Homo sapiens: one gene and its partner. The protein of the gene in region 1 purifies or fractionates together with the protein of each later gene. This does not show direct contact. Each region holds a gene or a part of one and is shown on either strand. Other genes may lie near its edges.

What was found.
Region 2: the proteins of CAPSL (region 1) and ZC2HC1A purify together in Homo sapiens (co-immunoprecipitation; one large-scale study listed by IntAct). This does not show direct contact.

The regions. Positions count from the first base shown.
Region 1 is NC_000005.10:35,935,500-35,939,796, reverse strand, and holds the start of CAPSL (calcyphosin-like protein), read left to right. Parts: upstream 1-1,174; 5' UTR 1,175-1,192; coding exon of another isoform or gene 1,193-1,243; 5' UTR 1,244-1,256; intron 1,257-4,297.
Region 2 is NC_000008.11:78,686,331-78,690,162, forward strand, and holds part of ZC2HC1A (zinc finger C2HC domain-containing protein 1A), read left to right. Parts: intron 1-136; coding exon 137-278; intron 279-2,891; coding exon 2,892-3,043; intron 3,044-3,832.

The DNA of each region.
Region 1 (4,297 bases):
GCTTCTGCATTCACAGATGAAATTAAGTTTCTTCTTAAAAGTTTCAAATGCGTGATATCTTGTGGGTTAAACCACTGAAAAGAAAACATTAGACATCTGAGGTTGCCCTGGAAGAACCACAGTTCTAATTGCTTAATTCTGGGACAATTCTTCAGACAATTCAGATAAAAGGATGAAATAGCTACTATGTATACTCCCTGCAGATATAGCAAAGGACCCAAGCCCTTGTCAAATCCATGAAAGAACTTGCCTAGTAGTCTGCAGAGCTGGGTGCCTGGCATCTATTCCGTTTTGTGAGTTCTTATACTGCAAGGATGTTGCACACAGCCAGGATTATGTTATATACAGAGATGTGTGTGTGTGTGTGTGTGTGTGTGTGTGTGTGTGTGTGTGTGTGTGTCAGAGAGAGAGAGAGAAAGAGAGAGGTGTAAGGTCTGAATCACCACTAATTATACCTGCCTGCTCCTGAAAGCAGGACGTGCAGGAGTGGGAATGACAAGGATAGGGTGGATGTCATAGATACACAATGAAAGAGAGCATAGTGTAGATATTTTCCTCCAAATAAGCCACTAGATTTCTTCTTATCTGGCAAAGTAACTGCTAGGGAACATGTGAAAAACATAAGTAAAAAGAAACAAAAAGAGAAAAGAAGAGAAGAAACCAAGGATGAAAACAGCAGAAATGACATCCTCTGCAAATGCAGAGAAGGAGGGAGAACCTTGAATCACCTATAATTACCCCTGCCTGCTCCCAAGAGTTGTGGTTTTAAGTATCACCTGGCAATGAGGCACCCTAGCAGTAAGCTTTCTGGGGACTACAGAAGGACAGGAAGGTGCTGCCTAAAAGAAAGAAGACAATGTGCTGAATACTACCTTACAAAACATGGGAGACAAGTTTTGATGCTGTTCTAGAAACCAAACCATTGCCAGCAAAACTTCTGGCTGGCTTCTCTCCCAGTGCAAATGGCTTGAGCTTTCACAGTCACTGAGATTTCCTAGGCAACAGGAGTGTAAACTTGAGAAAAGGCAGAACCAGAGTAGAGATTGACAGTGAGCTGAGCCAATCAGGCTGTGAATCTGCAGCAGTGATCCCAGGTCCTCCAATTAATACTAAGAGAGTGGACCAGGGCCCCTGAGGAAGACAGGTAAGAGGGAGGAGGCTAAGGTGGCTTGGGAGGGACCAGTTTTCCTAGATGCAGGAGACAGCGTCCATAGTTTCAGTTCGAAGCAACTGGTGGCAAAAGGTTAGCATTTAAGGTAAATCAATGTTTTTATCTATTCTATGATTTAATGTTTTTTTTTTTCTTGGTATGTCTTAGCTGAGAAAAGAAGACAGTAGATGTTACTCTCTAAAAAGAAAATCTAAAAGTCTTTTGAGAGTTCTTGGACTAGAGAAGCCATCACTAGGCTGTCAGTGCAAGAGGAAAGAGCTTGGTACTGGGAAAGATTTTTGTAATCTTTGCAAAAAAAATGCTTAGATAAAAATGCACAAAAATAAATTTCATTCAGTAAAGGGGAAGGAAGTAAACATTACTGAGCAGTCATTAGGTACTAGGTATTTGAGTGTGAAGGGTTTGGGTGAATTGCTCTAACGATCCTGATGACCACTGATAAAACTGAGCTTCAGGGAGGTTCAGCATTTCCAAGTCACAAAGCAATAAAACATTTCAACTTTCATTCAGACCTTGCTTTGTCTGATACTTAAACTTATGCTATTTCTGCTATACACTGACAACTGAGAATCAGAATAAAAATCAGGATGCTTATTAAAGTGTACATACATGGCTTGTTCAAAATTATATCAAATAGTTGATTTGATTCATCAGAGACTTGAGGGGGTCCTTTACGTTCTCATTAAAGGACAACACCAATGACCCAGGCAGCCATCTCTATTGCCTTCAGTCTGGGGAGTATTTAAACCATATTAAGTAGATGAAATTCTTACCTGTTTTTTTTTTTTGACTTATTTTTTCCTCAAATCCTACAACCACAAAAATCTATTTTGTTATTGAAAGTTTTAAATATTGAGATTTGAATTTCAGGCATACATTTGTATTTATATTCTGATAAAAATTACCCAATAGCAATGACAATGATAAATTCTAATAGCAATAAAATAGCCTCCTGCTAAGCCCTGATGATATGGTGATAGTAAATGCAAAGGATACAGCTCTACCTCGTAAGGACCTTATAGTCTGTCTAGCAGGGCAAGTAATTCGAAAACGAATTACATTGTCTTGCAATGTGAATGCTATTTGGACTTCACCACATGATCATGGAAGGATGGGTGGGACTTCTCTGGGCCAACAGGAAAAAGAAGGTGTACCTGCAAGTGTGACTACATGTACAAAGGCACAGAGATACAGAATGCTATGGTGTGTTTGGGGAATGTGAGTGAGTAGAGATGCAGGATAGATTTTGAACGGATGGAGAATTACTAGAAATGGCTGGAGACATAGGAAAGGCCAATGCATGAATTCAATGCTAAGAACTTTCATTTTACCTGTATGCAATGGGGGACCATCAAAGGGTCTTAAACTATATCATGAAGTTCATGTTTTCATTTTCTAAAGATTGCTCAGTCTTTTGAAAGACAAAGTACAGAGGGCAAAGCTAGGGGCAGGAAACCAACTAGGAGACATTTGCAATGGTGGAAATGAGAAGTGACCATGTCCTAGGCTGAGTCAGTATCCATGGCAATGGAGATGAGGGAATGGAAATGCGGGATGTGTCAAGGTAGTGAAACTCTATAGGACTTAGCTGCTATTTGGATGTAAAGGGTTAGGAAGAGTCTAGGATAATGGTCAGTTAATGACCCAGGTAAATGGTATTGCTGTTTCCTGAAGCAAAGAGTAAGGAAGATAGGTAATGAATTTGGCTCTGGAACATTAAACTGAAAGTGTCTGTAGGTCATCCAAGTGCACATGTTTTGTGAGAAATCTGGCTCCAGAGAGTGCCTACATTGGAATAAAGATTTGTTAGTCATCATTGTATCAGGGGATATGACTGAGATTGCCATAAGATAGTGGAATAGTGAGAAGAGAAAGATAACTGAAGCCTGAGAAACAGCACTTAAGAAGCAGGTGAAGACAAGGAAGAAACAAAATAGGACAGATCCAAGAGGGAGGAGGAGAGACAGGGAGTTAGATTTATAGCCATTGAGAGAAAGGGTGTTAAAAAGGAAGAATGACCAATAGTCAACTAGTTGGAGAAGTGAACTAAGGGCTAATGACTGTTGAAGTTGGCAATCAGGTTAGCAATGACTTATTGAAGAGTATATTTGTTGGAATGACAGGGTGAAGACCATATTGAAATGGACCGAAGTATGAATGGGGCATGAGAAAGTAGAAAATCTGGAAATTCTTTAAAATAGTTTGACTTTGAGGGGTGATAGCTAGAGGGAGTCCAGGACTGAGGGACCACAGCGGATTCATGAACTAAAAGAAGGAGCTGCTGGAGAGGAGGAAAAGGGCATAACTGATGGCTGAGAATCTTAGAGGGGTAGGCCTCTGTGTTGCAGGTAGAGAGGGCATCCTTAGATGGGAGGAAGTTCAGCAATCTCTTGGAGGAGGGAGGAGGGAGGATGAAGTCAGGATGCCCTTAGAGCGCTATACTTTTATAGATTTGGAGGAGGATGATGTGAATTTGTTCATAACTGGTGGTTCCATTTTTTTCTGGGTCTTTCAAGGCAAGGTCTGGAGTGGCAAAAGTTTGGATTAGCCTCTGAGGAGACTGGAATAAGAACCTGACCAACATCATATAAAAGTTGAGTTGTGTGTTGCAGAAGGCCTAGCTGTGGTTAAAGAATAAATACAGTGACACCTGTCCATGCTGGCATGTGGGTTTATTCAGCTGCACTTCAGTCTGCCGTTAAGTACATGGAACATGGGCAAATTGAACCAAGTTAGCTATTATTCTGAGATGGTGGGAGGTTGAAAAATGAGGGTCAAGAAGGGAGGCACTGGTACCAGATGGTCAGAAAGATGCGCAGAGTGTGTAAAATGGATAAGAAAGGAAGTAGATCCAGAAGGGAGAATGAGGTAGGTAATGGCTGGGGTGAAAATGTAGGGCCAAAAGTCTGGAGGTACCATAAGGTCAGAAGCAAGTTGGAATAATGGAACTGAACACTGCAGATAAAGTCAATCTTGAATTTTGAACTTTCAGTCTGGGCACCGTGGCTCATGTCTGTAATCTCAGCATTTTGGAAGGCCAAGGTGGGAGGATTGCTTGAGCTTAGGAGTTCAAGACCAGCCTGGGCAACATAGCAAGATCCTGTCTCTACTAAAAATAAGAAAAAA
Region 2 (3,832 bases), on another chromosome or scaffold:
TTTGAGAAGGATATCATTTAAGGACTCCTGATAAGAGAACATTTAAAATGATATGGAATTATCTGATGTTTTATTTCAATATACTAAAAAGATACTGTTTGTTTATTTATTTATTTATTTATTTATTTATTTATAGCCAGAACCACCAAAGAAACCATCTAATTGGAGAAGGAAACATGAAGAATTCATTGCTACCATAAGAGCAGCTAAAGGCCTTGATCAGGCCCTCAAAGAGGGTGGCAAACTTCCTCCTCCTCCTCCACCTTCTTATGATCCTGGTATTTGGAATATTGTTGACAGAAATGTTCATGTGGAAAGAAAATAATGATAGAGTTTTTATAAATTTTCACTTGTTAAGCTTAACTTACAATCATGGAGTGTTATGAGGCATAATCTTTAAAATTTGGTGTAAAATGGTGGTGGTAATCTAGTCATGTAGGCTTATAAAGACATTAATTTAGAACATGGAAGTGTATTATGTTTTTATTTTAATACTTTTATTTAAACAAGGCATTATAATATCATTTAAAAATTATTATAGTAACTATTAAATGTGAGTATTCCAGGAAATATTTTAACCATGCTCACTGCGGATTGAAATGTAGTCATTCAGCAGGAGTCATATAATTATGTTGCCTGGTTCCTTGGTATCTTCTCATCTGAGATTGATATAAAAAAAATCATAATTTTCCTAAAATGTATAATTCATGTGGCTCGACTACATTTATGGCTTAAATTTGTATATTGTTAAATTTTTTCTCATTGAGCAGATAAAAGTTGCTTGAGTCATTGTTACTAAAAGCAAAGCAAGATTTTTGCAACCTTGTATGAGATACTGAGATACCGAAAAACTTAAAGTGACAAAGTTGACACTTTGACATTCCTTATTAGAGCAGCCTAAAGAGGTTGTTAATGTAACAGGGTAGCCACATTAATGCTATGTTAGTACTCTAGATTGGGATTTATTTTCTAACAAAGAGAAAGTTCTTTAGCAAATCTAGATATGATCGTTTTTGACATTTTATTGTAGAGGAGAGATATAGTATATCTACAGATATAGTAAATATCTTAGATTTTATATGCCATAAGGTTTCTATTGCAACAAATAAGCCATAGACTATATATACATAATTATATATATATTTATATATAATTATATATGTTTATATAATAAATTATATATATTTATATAATAAATTATATATTTATATAATAAATTTTATATTTACATAATAAATTATATATATTTACGTAATAAATTATATATATTTACATAATACATTATATATATTTACGTAATACATTATATATATATTTACGTAATACATTATATATATTTACGTAATACATTATATATATTTACGTAATACATTATATATATATTTACGTAATACATTATATATATTTATGTAATACATTATATATATTTACGTAAGACATTATATATATATTTACGTAATACATTATATATATTCATGTAATAAATATATATATTCATGTAATAAATTATATATATATTTATATAATATATATCTATATAATAAATATATATTTATATAATAAATTATATATATTTATATAAATATATAATTATTTATATCTATATTTTTATATATAAACTATATCTATATTTATATATAAATATATATAAATTATATATATATAAATATAAAATGAGCATGGCTGTGTTTCCGTAAAACTTCATTTACAAAGACAGGCAACAGGCAGGCTGGATTTGGCCCATGGGCCATACTTTGCGAAACCCTGTTCTAGAGTATTAATAATTAACTTATATGAATGAATGTTTCTGGTATGCTTTAACTGATCCTGGGCCTCTTTTAATACTACCTTTTATTTTCTTCATGAACTTGAGTTTTCTCTCTGCTTTGAAGATATTTAGATATTGTGTCTTAACTCTACATAGCTACATTTCTCATGTCTAATATAAGAGAGTGAGAGGGTACCAGTTCTTCAGGATCGTTTGGGCTTTAGAAGTTTTTTTAATCTTTTGGGCCTGACAAAAACAGCTTATTTCTTTCTTATGAGAGGTTTAAGACCTACTCCAGTAGTAAGGAGGACAAATTTTTGAGCTCAGATGAATATAAATTGAAAAGGGCAAACTCTGTATCAAAAAAGTAAACCTGTTAAAATAAGTTGTAAACCTGTTAAATTAAGATTCTTTTTTGACACTACCAGATTTTTACATTTATTCCCAGTGTCTCATTTAGTTATTTTACAATGCTACAAAATATGGTTCTGGAATAATTTCAAAAGAAGTTTAATTTACAGTATGCTTTGCATTTTGGGAAGATATTTTATCTTGGAAACATTTGCTGTTTCTTAAATTTGAATTATGTCAGTGAGATATATTTTAATCACTTCTTCCATCTGTTGGGACTTTTAAGAGAAAATAGCACTTTAAAGATAAGTAAACTATTTCTTGACAGTTTTCCATTTGATGAAATAAAAAATTTTAATAGATGAGCCTGTATTTTAAAATGTATTTTAACGTCATGTATTATTACTTCCTAACTAGTCTGCTATATAAAGTATGTATCCATTATAAATGAAAACATAAAGGCAAAAAAGAAATAACGTTTTTCCTCTGCTTACTCTTTTGTACTAAGGATTTATCTTTTGTTTTTTTTCCTTCACACATTTGATTCAAAGCTAGAAGAAAATTGGAAGTCATGTACCAGCAGACTTTTTTTTTTTTTAACTCTTTACTAAGTTTAGACAAGTAAAACTGGGTAGTTATAAGGATATGGGAATTTTTGCTTATCAGATGTTATTACTTATATTTTTTGAATGACTGCATAGAAACTTAAGATTTTTTAATGTCCGTTTCAAGTACTATGCTATTAATCTGTTTCCGTTTTTATCTGTTATAGATTATATTCAATGTCCATATTGTCAGAGGAGATTCAATGAAAATGCAGCTGATAGACATATAAATTTCTGTAAAGAACAGGCAGCACGTATTAGTAATAAAGGGAAATTTTCTACAGATACCAAAGGAAAACCAACTTCTCGGACACAGGTGGTAAGTTCAGTTTTAATAATTGCTATAAACGAGAAAATGGCTCATGGACATTCATAGATTATTGTTTATGCTTTTCATGACATTAGACTATATTTTTCTCACCTGCTTTTATAGATATATAGTTTTATATATCTATAAAAGTTGTATGCTTTTAGCTCTTATATCTGTAAATCATTTCAAGCTAATTGTGTATAGTGTGAAGGGGCAATTGTTCCCTTTTTCTATGTGGATATTCTATTGTCTTAGCACGTTTTGTATATATAAAATATATAAAAACATTATATATATGTATACATGTTTTTAGATTATCGAGTGAAAGACCTTGTTACATATTCTTGGTCTTTTCTCAGATGTATATTAAGAATATTTTCTCCCATCCTGTGACTTGGCTTTCCATTTTCTTAAGGATGTCTTTTGAGGGGCAAAAATTTTAAAATGTGATTAAGTCCAATTTATTAATTCTTTATGATTTATGCTCCTTATCTTGTATCAAAGAAATCTTTGCCTATACTAGGATTGCAAAGATTTTTCTCCCATGTCTTCTATAAGTTTTATGCTTTTAGCTCTTACATCTGTAAATCACTTCAGGCTGGTATTTGTGTATAGTGTGAAGTAAGGGGCAGTTTTTCCTTTTGTTTTCTATGTGGATATTCTATTGTTTTAGCACGATTTGTTTAAAGGACTTTTCTTTCCCTGATGAATTGCTGAGGCACCTTGGTTGGAAATCAGATGAATATAAATGTATGGGTTTATTTCAGGACATGCTGTTCTGTTCCATTGATTTATATC